Linked DNA regions of Homo sapiens: region 2 is linked to region 1. Evidence: fine-mapped expression QTL. A gene starts in region 1. The other region holds a variant in brackets. All regions are shown on one strand. Distances are between the middles of the regions. Region 1 holds the start of B4GALT1 (beta-1,4-galactosyltransferase 1). Region 2 overlaps B4GALT1 (beta-1,4-galactosyltransferase 1).

Evidence for each region.
Region 2: its variant is fine-mapped to the expression of B4GALT1 in whole blood (TOPMed, PIP 0.98).

What each region holds. Positions count from the first base shown.
Region 1 is chr9:33,164,871-33,170,356 of GRCh38, forward strand. B4GALT1 (beta-1,4-galactosyltransferase 1) reads right to left here and starts at 2,466. Exons shown (of 6, transcript NM_001497.4): 1 at 1,888-2,466. The coding sequence starts at 2,299. B4GALT1-AS1 (B4GALT1 antisense RNA 1) reads left to right here and starts at 2,078. Exons shown (of 3, transcript NR_108110.1): 1 at 2,078-2,176. RefSeq lists silencers at 2,218-2,491, 2,250-2,649 and enhancers at 2,317-2,882, 2,800-2,899, 2,883-3,447, 2,970-3,049.
Region 2 is chr9:33,109,755-33,114,754 of GRCh38, forward strand. It overlaps B4GALT1 (beta-1,4-galactosyltransferase 1), which reads right to left. Exons shown (of 6, transcript NM_001497.4): 5 at 4,020-4,124; 6 at 888-3,832. The coding sequence ends at 3,700. Among named protein-coding and RNA genes, the nearest start is that of MIR12117, 3.6 kb to the left of the region's middle. RefSeq lists an enhancer at 1,837-2,436. The variant A/C (reference allele first, on the strand shown) is at 2,871.

The sequences.
Region 1 (5,486 bases):
AGAGCCATTTCTGTGGGAGTCTGAAAAAATGAAACTTTTTAAAGATCCTAAGCAAATATTATTACTATATTATTATTATACGGTGTATTGAGTGCCCGTATTTTTTTTTTTTTTTTTTTTTTTAGACAGTCTTGCTTCGTCGCCCAGGCTGGAGTGTACTGGCACAATCTTGACTCACTGCAACCTCTGCCTCCCAGGTTCAAGCAATTCTCCTGCCTCGGCCTCCTGAGTAGCTGCGATGCCACCACCCCTGGCTAACTTTTTTGTATTTTTGTAGAGATGGGATGGTGTTTCACCATATTGGCCAGGCTGGTCTCAAACTCCTAACCTCAAGTGATCCACTCCCCTCAGCCTCCCAAAGTGCTAGGATTACAGGCGTGAGCCACCATGCCCAGCCTGAGTGCCTGTATTTAATGTACACGATCTCATTTAGTCTTAAAAAAACCCCTGTAAGGTAATCATCGACAACCACATTTTACACAAGGAAGAGATTTTGAGAAACTCGATAGCATGTCTCAAGTCAGACACTTAGCAGCAAGGCAGAGTCCATTTCATTTTATGGGACTAGTCTGCTTCCCAGAATAATCATCAAATGCAAAGGAATTTAATTATCTGCTTAAAAAAACAAGCCCCCATTATTACCACAGTTCACGTCTGACCAATTCCAAGATGTTCTTCCCAAACTTGATATGAACACATTGACGCAATTACTGGCGAAATTGAGCAAGAGTATGTAGTAGCCAGGGCTCTGTGGGAAAGTGACAGAAAACTCCTATTGGCAGGATGTCATCCTGCCTGCCAGGGCCCCTCACTTACAACAATTATCTAAAACCTAGCATTAGAAATGAGAAACCACCTGTGTGGTAACCCTGGAAGCAACCTGTGGTTGCCTTGGGCCTGTGGGCCTGTAGGTTACAGGTCAAAGAGAAGTCCAGACTAGGCTCAGCCAGCTGCTATGAGGAATGCAAACTCACCTACTCAAGCTCTCTGCCTATGCTGAAACAGGCTAGAGGTCAGAGTTCAGATCATCTGGGCAAGATAATTGAGACTCAGGCTGCTACCGGAAGTACCAGAAATGGGCAACGTGGTGTTGACTGGTTATATTTTAGCCCTCTAACACCCAGAGTACACAAGCTCTCTGCCCCTGGGAGAGATCCCTGCTCACCTAGGTTTTGGGTACCCATACCAGGAGGAGGCTAGGGGGAAGGGCTCTCGGTCACGATCCACACAGAGGAAGAAATGAACACACAGTGACAATTTACTGAGGGCTTACCCTCATTAATTAAGCCCTTATTTACCATTGTTCACAATATCTTCCAAAACAACCCCTTGAAAGGGTGACCATTTATTATCCCAGAAGAGAAATATGAGGTTCAGAGAGAAGTCACTTGGCCCAAACGATCAGGAGAAAAACCCACTCAGGAGAGTGGCTCTATGGCAAGACACGTGAACCGAGAGGTCAGTCTCCTTCCCCACCGGGAGCCTCACGTCAGTCCCCAAAAGGGAGTGGATTACTCGAGGTCCCTACCAGAGTTCTCAGTGCAAGGCTGCTCGAAGCCCTAAGCAGACCCAAACTCCAAAACTTCCTGAGCCTCGGGCCACAGCAGGGAAGTCTCCAAGGCCTTCTCTGGTTCTGGGGCTAGAGGGGCCTCGGGACTTCCCTGTGCGGTCCCGGCCCCACGCCTCCAACAGGACTCCCCAGGGACCCACCTCGCAAACCTTCTCTCCCATCCAGTCCCAAGCCTCTGTCTGGGATTTAAAACTCTGATCCAGAAGAGGGAGGCTGGCTGTCGTAGAAGAGCCAGCCTGAGGGAATGTCTGGGGGACCCTGTCGGGGAAATCCGGGGGGGTCCCAATCCTCCGACTGGCGCCGACCCGAGTCCTTACCAAGCAGCGGGGACTCCTCAGGGCAGGCGGGCAGCGACAGTGCGGTGGTGTGGGGCACTGGGACCGAGGTCAAGTTGCTAGCGGGGCCAGGGCCAGAATCCACGACTGGGCTGGAGTCGCCACCCGGGCGCGGCTGGGAGGAGGCGCCTAGAGGAGGCGGCGGCCGGGCCCCTCCGGTCCGGAGCTCCCCGGAGGACTGCCCGATGGCGGCGGCACTGTTCGAGCCGCCCTGCAGCGGTGTGGAGACTCCGACCAGTTGGGGCAGGCGGCTCAGGTCGCGGCCAGCCAGGTAGTAAACGAGGGTGACGCCAAGGTGCAGAGCGCAGACGGCCACGAGCAGGCGGCAGGCCCGCTGTAGGGACGCGCCTGGCATCGCGGCGCTGCCGCTCAGGAGCGGCTCCCGAAGCCTCATCTTCCCGCCGCCGCTTTAAGAAGGGTGTGGGCTACAGGAGGGGAGGCGACCCGCCCGCGGGCCGCCCGCCAGGCGCTGCCCCACAGCGGCGACTAGGGGAGGGCCCGGAGCGGGGGCGGGCGAGCGGCTGAGAGCTGAGACTCCTCCAGCCAGCCAGACCTGGGAGCGGCGAGAAGCCGCCCGAGGCGCCGGCGGAGAGGGGAGGGGCGGGGCCCCGGCGAAGGCGGGGGCGGGGCCGGGCGCGGGGTTTTCTGGACGAGGGCGGGAAGGCGGGGCAGCCCGTGGCGGGATGGGCGCGCTGGGCGGGGCCTCGGGAGGGTGGGCAGCGGGCGGGGCGCCGTCGTGGGGTCCCCGGAGTATGACTGCAGCTCCGACGCTTGGCCGCGCACCGCCCTCTTCCTCCCGAGCCTTTGCGGCGGAGCTTCGGTCGCGTTGAGCCGCGCCTCCTCTTCCTCCTCCACGCTGCCCTCGACAGGCCGCGCCACTTCCTGGGGTGCGAAGGGACTCGGGTGCGAGCCTGGGCCTGCAGCGCGGCGGCGGAGAGAACGGAGAGGACAGCTGGCGGGTGGTTATCTGGAGTGGTTTGGGGCCGCGGCGGCGTTCTGGCCAGTGGGCCTTGGTGGGCTAGGAAGAGAGGCAGAAAAAGGTTACCCAGGAAACGGGCTTCGACGCCGGGCGAGGAGTGGCACGTTCGAAACCCCCTCCCTAACTCAGCCCGGCTGGACCCCGCTGCTTAACGGGGGGTCCTGCGGCAAAGAAAGTGGACGGGTTGCCACTTCTGTGCCTCCCCATCAGGTAGCCTGGGCTATAAGGGGCTCTCAGACCAGCTTGGTTCCAGATGTGTGTGTGGCGGGAGTCCTGTATACTTTGAAGAGGAGAGCAGCAAGAAGCCTCTAACTCCCAGGCCAGCGTGCAGGAGATCAGCCGGCGTTACAGTCTACACTGGGCTACCCACTGTCCCATGAAGTAGCAGTTCTCCCCATGTCGTAGAGTGGGGCCCCGGCAGATTAAGAAACTTTCCTAAGAGCCCACAGCTGGCAAGAGGCAGAATTCTGGCTCCGAAACCCATGTTTTCTACAGGTTTACCCTTTGTTGATTTGCAAGTAAGGGCTGAAGGCTGTGTGGGTGAGAGACTTAGGCACTGAAGCCACTTGACCTCGATTTGACCCAGAGGCCTCAGGCCCTGAGTGAGCAGAGACACCTCACCCCAGAGAAAGACTCATGGAGGTGCTGTCAGTAATGTGGATAGGGAAGTTGAGGGCTCTGGCAGCCAACCATCAGGGAATAACAGTAGCTACCTTATTTTGAGAGTTTGCTGTGTGCCAGTACTATCTGCCATGAAGTAGGTGGTGTTACGGTGTCCATTTCACAGATGAGAAAATAAGGCTTATGAGTTGACACTTTGGTTGTGATCATACAGAATCAACTTTCCTCACTTGACTTCCTGGACACCAGGTCCTTCTGATCTTCCTCACTTCACTGGCCATTTCTGTCTCCTCTCTGGACTTCTTCCCCAGTTGCTGAAGGCCCCAGCCATAGTCCATGATGTTCTTTTGTGTCTACACTTACTGCCTCGGAATGATTTATAATATCCAAATGCTGATCACTGATTTGTCTCCAGCCCAGATCTCTTCCCTGACCTCCAGATTCAACTGCTTATTTTACTGGCATCTCAAACACAATACATCTTGCCCTCAGCAACCTACTCCTTACACACCACTCCCGTTCTTACCTCCCTCAGAGAGTGATACTATTGTTTATTCAGTTCCCCAGAATCTAAAAGGTGTCCTTGATGTGCTTCTCTTGCTCTCAATGCCATTTGCAAGCCCTCAGCCAGCTTTGTCAGTGCTACCTTCAAAACATCAAAATTCACCACCAGCCAACTCTGATGTAACCATCCTCGATCAAGCCACCATCATCTTGCCCTGGGTTATATGGCAGCTACTAATTGGTCACCCTGCTTCCACCTCCTCCATTCCTCCTCCCTAGTCTGTTTTCCACAGAGCATCCAGGAAATCTTTGTAAGCATAAATCAGATCATGCCATTTTGTTCAGAACCAAATCCACAGAAACCCTGTTCAATCTGGTTCCTATTTCCCTCCCCACCCACATCTGTCACTCTACCATGCTGGACCTGCCTTAGCCACACTAGCCTGATAGCTATTCCTTGAACTTGCCATATTTCTTCCTGCCTCAGGGCCTTTGTACTTGCTGTTCATTTAGCCTGAAACACTTGTCCCCAATATTTCATTCAATTCAGGTCTCTTAAATGTCACCTTATGACAGAGACCTTTTCAGACTACCTTATGCAGAATGGCCTCCTGCCCAAATCTGCTTAAACTGCTTGAATTTTTTTTTTTTTTTTTTTGAGACAAAGTCTTGCTTTTGTCCCCCAGGTTGGAGTGCAATGGTGCAATCTCACCTCACTGCAACCTCTGCCTCCCGGGTTCAAGCGATTCTCCTGCCTCAGCCTCTTGAGTAGCTGGGATTACAGGTGCCTGCCATCACGCCGGGCTAATTTTTTGTGTTTTTAGTAGAGACGGATTTCACCATGTTGGCCAGGCTGGTTTCAAACTCCTGACCTCAGGTGATCCGCCCGCCTCGGCCTCCCAAAGTGCTGGGATTACAGGCGTGAGCCACCGCGCCCGGCCTTAACCTGCTTGATTTTTTTCAGAGTGGATATCAACTACCCAACATTATGCATTTATTTTCTGTTGTCTTGCCTCCCTCATTAGAAAATCAGCTTCATGAGAACAGGAAATTTCTCTCTTGTTCACTACTGTATCTTCAGCCCCTAGATTTTTTTTTTTTTTTTTTTGAGACGGAGTCTCACTCTGTCACCCAGGCTGGAGTGCAGTGGCGTGATCTTGGCTCACTGCAAGCTCTGCCTCCTGGGTTCACGCCATTCTCCTGCCTCAGCCTCCCAAGTAGCTGGGACTACAGGTGCCTGCCACCATGCCCGGCTAATTTGTTTGTATTTTTAGTAGAGATGGGGTTTCACCGTGTTATCCAGAATGGTCTCAATCTTTTGACCTCGTGATCTGCCTGCCTCGGCCTCCCAAAGTGCTGGGATTACAGTTGTGAGCCACCGTGCCCGGCCGATATTTGTTAAAATACTTTTTAAATACTGTGATCATCTTAATGATGTGGGAAGGAGAGAAGGGAAAAATTATTGCTAACTTAGTTT
Region 2 (5,000 bases), 55 kb before region 1:
AGACAGTGTCAGAATTGAGTTAAACTGTAGGACACCCAGCTAGTGTCCACTAGAAAACTGCTTGTTGGTGGGGAGAAATCCCTACATATCTAGGGGCAGAACTGAAGTGTTGTGAGTGGTGGTGTGTGAGAAGGAAAGAAACAGGTTTTTTTTTGTTTGTTTTTAATTTTGTCAGACCCTCTAAGGCAGCATTTTGTCCAAAGGACCAGAGTTGTCCTGTTTGAAGGCCAGATCTGAACCCCAGGCCACCTTTGCACAGGCCTGAGGTCACCAGGGATCCCTCCAGCAGTGACATGCAGGCAGGGCCTGCAGCTCCCTGCCAAGGGTGGCTCTCCTGCTCACTGGTTTCCTGCAGCCCTTCTTCAGGAGTGCCAATTCAATCCAACCAGCCTGACCCAGGGCCACCAAGGAGGAGGCACCTGGGTAAAAACTAAGACCTTTTAGAGCTTATGGTTACATTTCCTGAGACTGACAAGAAACCTCATTTTGGATAATTCCCTTCAAGTTACACTGTGAGCACCTGGTGCAAATGGCCCTGAGATCTACATCTGAATGATCCTGGTATCTGTTGAAAATAGCAGAATGTGGCCCAAGAACTGCTAGGGGAAAAAAATTCTACTTTGAAATGGCACTAGCTACTATGTAGTGAGTACTTGTGAGGCATTAGTCATTGTTTTACATATATCGTCACTTTTAAGCCTCAAAAAAGTCCCTATGTGTTATTATTCCCATTTTACAGATAAGAGAATGAAGTTCAGATGGGGAAATGTCTGATTCCAGGGAGGCATGTGTATTTGTATGGGTCACAGACCAGGGAATGACCCTGTCCCCACCCCATCCCACAGCCATGACAACCCTTACACCTGGCAAACAGAAACCACCTGCAGTTACAAAGATAGGGTCATTTATTCACGTTATATTATTTAATTTTAAAGGCAAAAATACAGTTCTGTTTTGAACACCAAGATCAGACACAGCCCCCTACACAATGGTAAATACACACATTTGCATACACAGGAAATCAAAATACACAGCACAACAGGTCTCTGGGACATGAAAGCCGTCATCCTGGCTATGCAGAGCCCCCGCCCCTGGCAGTCAGCAGAGACCCTGTCCAGGCTGAAGGCCAGCACAGCATCTCCTTTACTGTCCTGTGCCACCTCTGCCCTCTCTGATCTTTCCCAAAGGCCAGTTCACACAGAGTCACCAGCAATAGGATACACAGAAACAGAAAAGGGCACGGCACATGACAACTTCGCGGTCATAACTCCCAGGAAAAGGAAATGCTCCCTGAACCCCCAGCCCTGAAATCCCCAGTAAGGAAACAGGACCCGCGGCATCTCACGGACCAGGCAAACATCCAGGCCTAACTGTGCCCTGGCTGTGCCTTGGGCCCAGGTGAGCCCATGAGAGCACTACGTCAGCAAATGGGGGGAGCAGTATTTCCCTTGGTTCTAAGAATGAACCACATACTTGACATGAATGAGAAGGTAACCAAAAAAAAAAAAAAAAAAAAAAAAAAAACAACAAGAAAAGGTAGAGTTTGGTTTTAAGAGTAAAATAACACAGAAGTTACCACTCAGGGCATTTGTCTGATTTCTTTTAAGGCACTTTGGAAAAGTCAGGATCTGCGGACAGAAAGAGAGGCTTTCATTCTTCTTATTTCCCACAACTCCCTCTCAATGCAGTCATTTCTAGTTTTAATAATATCCTTGGTATAGAGTGGGGAACTGACAGAGAAATACTTTTTGCATAGTCCAGCTGCTTCTGCAATGGAAAATAATTTTTAACCAATACAAAGGCTTCTGGAAAAAGAACCAAGTTAGCATCTGAGATGCGCAAAGCAGTAAAGGCACAGATAAGACTGGGGCCAGGCACCAGCTCAGCCTCCACACTGAGGGCTGGTACCCAGGAGGGCAGTGGTTTGGGGTCCGCCACGAGCACAAGGCTCAACCCTGGGATTAGGCAGCTGAGTCTTGGAACCTGAGCCCAGGCTGGACCTGGCAAAGGCGCTCAGTGGTAGGAGTGCCTTGTGTCATCTCATCCCAGGTGGCTCAATAGCTCCCAACAGAGGTGGGTTTGTGACAGACAGCCCTGTGGGTGGGAGCCTCAACTGGGGTGGGAGCACCTGTGAAAACCTGAGGTGGAACAGGAGGCTTTAGGCACCGAAGTTCTTGGGAGGGAGTTGGGGTGTGGGTTCGGCTGAACTTCTTTCTAGATCACTAATTAAAAGGCACATTCATGCTGGGGAATGGATAGTCTGTTTGACCCTGAGTGCCACAGTCAAGTTTTAGGGGACAGGCAAGAGGCAAAGGAACAAAAAGGGAGACGAAGGAAGGAATGAGAAAGGCAGGGGAAAAGAGGAAGGAGGAAGAACTGGTAACAAAGGGTGGGCCACGGAGTGTGGCTAGCAGAGCCTCTGAGGGAGGTGGCCCCCACCAGAACAGAGGCTCCCTCTGCCTGGGGAGGTGCAAAGGGCTGGTAAACAACCTGACTGCTGTTATTTACAACCCCCCAGCCTAGGGGCCTGAGGGGTCAGTCTAAGGAGGCTGAGGCTCCCTCCGCCCTGCCCACCTGGGGAGGGTTGGGGAAGTGGAGAGTTCTGCACAGTAGGTGCAGAGGCTTCTGTCTCCCAGGTATCCTCCCCGAGGTCTGGCAGGATAATGCTGACCGGGAGGCCTTACCTGCCAAGGGGCCAGAGGGTGATTTTGCTCTTGAGAAAACCTGGCCTGCCAGCTAAATCATAGGCCTATTTGTGGCCACTACAGCATATATTTATTTTTCTCCCTAAAAAATGCTCAATACCCCTCCCCATATTTAAAACACCACAATAAAAATACATAGGAAATTCAAGTTTACATAGCATGCCA[A/C]GAAAAATAAATTGTCATGACTTAACATTAAACAGCTATGCAAATTTGGATCAACACAAAATCAAGCTAGATCATAATTAGAACTCGATCTGTTCTTTCTTTAAAATACTACAAACTACTATTTAAAAAAAAACACAACAACTTTACATTCAGAAATCAGACAATCTGGAGATAGGCCACTGAATGCGAGAAACCCAAGGCTTTTGCTCTGATGCTAGAGTTGCCCTGGAATCCACACACATAGGACAAAAGGTCCAGGGCTCAAGTTTTAAAATCCTTTTGCTAAGAAAAGACATATGCACAGTGATTGCAGTGGTTGCATACCACTGAAAGAAGGGGGTGGGGGGAGGACGTAACATTAAGAATGGTTGAAATTTTGTGTTTTTCTGTTAAATTACAACTACCAAAAAGATCACACCAATCCAATTTTAGCAGCACTCTCCGAATTTTCACGAATAAGAAAACCATAATTTAAAGAAAAATTCTAACCTATTTCACGACAATTTAGCAATTCTATCACCGGGAATGTGTTCCACGGCCACCAAATTTTGGGATGTGTACAGTTCTGACTCTGGGGTGACACTGCGAACACATCAAGAAACCCGCAAAGGCATAAACACCTTGCAGAGCTAAGAATTCACATGCCGAGCCAAGTTGGGGGCAAAATATCCCACTCGTCCTGGTCATCTGGAAAGCCATCTGAATGATGAGCGAAGGGGACCTGTCACTCAGACTGGTAAAAATGAGAGGGACCAGCCCAGCAGATTGGCAGAGACACACAGCAGAGGTCCCTGGCTAATTTCAGGTCTCTTATCCGTGTACCAAAACGCTAGCTCGGTGTCCCGATGTCCACTGTGATTTGGGTATACAATGGGTATCTCTGTACATCCAGCACCTGGTAGGTGAGTGAGTTCAAACCATCAGAGAGCATTGTCTCCTTTGTGTGTGCAATTCGGTCAAACCTACAAGGAAAAGAGCACAAGGAGATTGTCTTAAAACAAAAATCTTAAGAAGAAATCATCACACGTACTTCCTCCTCCCTCTCCACTGTAACCTGACCACCTCAATTTCCCTCTAGGCCCAGAGCCTCGGACCTGCAGCCTACCTCATCCTAAAGGGGGAAGGAGTATGAATAAACAAAGAATGCACCTCTGAGGATTGGGTTCATTTTTCTTGTCTCTTGAGTGGCGGATCATGCGACACCTCCCGACCACAGCATTTGGGCGAGATATAGACATGCCTCTAAAAACTAATCTGCAAAGAGTAAAGGGAAAGTCATTATCACAGAGCTGCCATACACTTGGCCTGAGAGCCCCGGCTGCAAGACTGTTGCTCCATCCACCATCACCCTTGCTGTTCTCACTCAGCCCACAACCCAGCATCATGCCAGAACCCAGCCCAGCATGACCCTGGTTAAAACTCACATTCCGACTCCATGTCCTTTTACAACTGGTTCTGCGGTTTGTGGTGTTGACTACCATGTGCCAGACACTGGGGCCGTGTGCCCCACAGAATATACAGTGTGAATGCTTCAAACATAGGGCCTTTAGGGCCAGGATGGAGGTGAGAAGAGGAAGATGAGGTTGGAGACACAGAGGAAGAAGCATAGAGTTTGTAACCTCTGCTGGAGCAAGCCTAGGCAGAGCCCAGTTGAGGATGAACAGGTATCTGCCATAGCATTTTGGGCAGCCAGGATGGCACAGGCAAAGGCATGGAAGTGAGAGCAAGCCTAGTGCCCTCAGGGAGCAACGTAAGCTCCTGGGGACTGGTGACAAGGGTCTGGGGTAGGACGTGGCAGGTGATGGGCTGAAAAGGGCCAGGCTAAGTCACAGAGGCCTTCTCAGAGCATCCCACAAACGGTTGCCAGTATCTGAAAGGGGCCTAATATACAGTATTTCCAAAATGCTTTTAGCCATGGGGAAGTCTCTGGAAAGTAGTATACGAATGGAGGGCTTCAGAACATGTGGGAAAAGGCAGAAAAAAACAAATGGAGGGCTGAGAACAAGACTAGAGGCAGCCAGAACAGGGTGGAGGATTCTGTGTTGGTCCAAGGAAAAGGAATGAGGACCAAAATGAAAGCCTGGAGAGCAGGACAGCAAAGTTAGTTAAGAGGCAGAACTGGCTGATCCC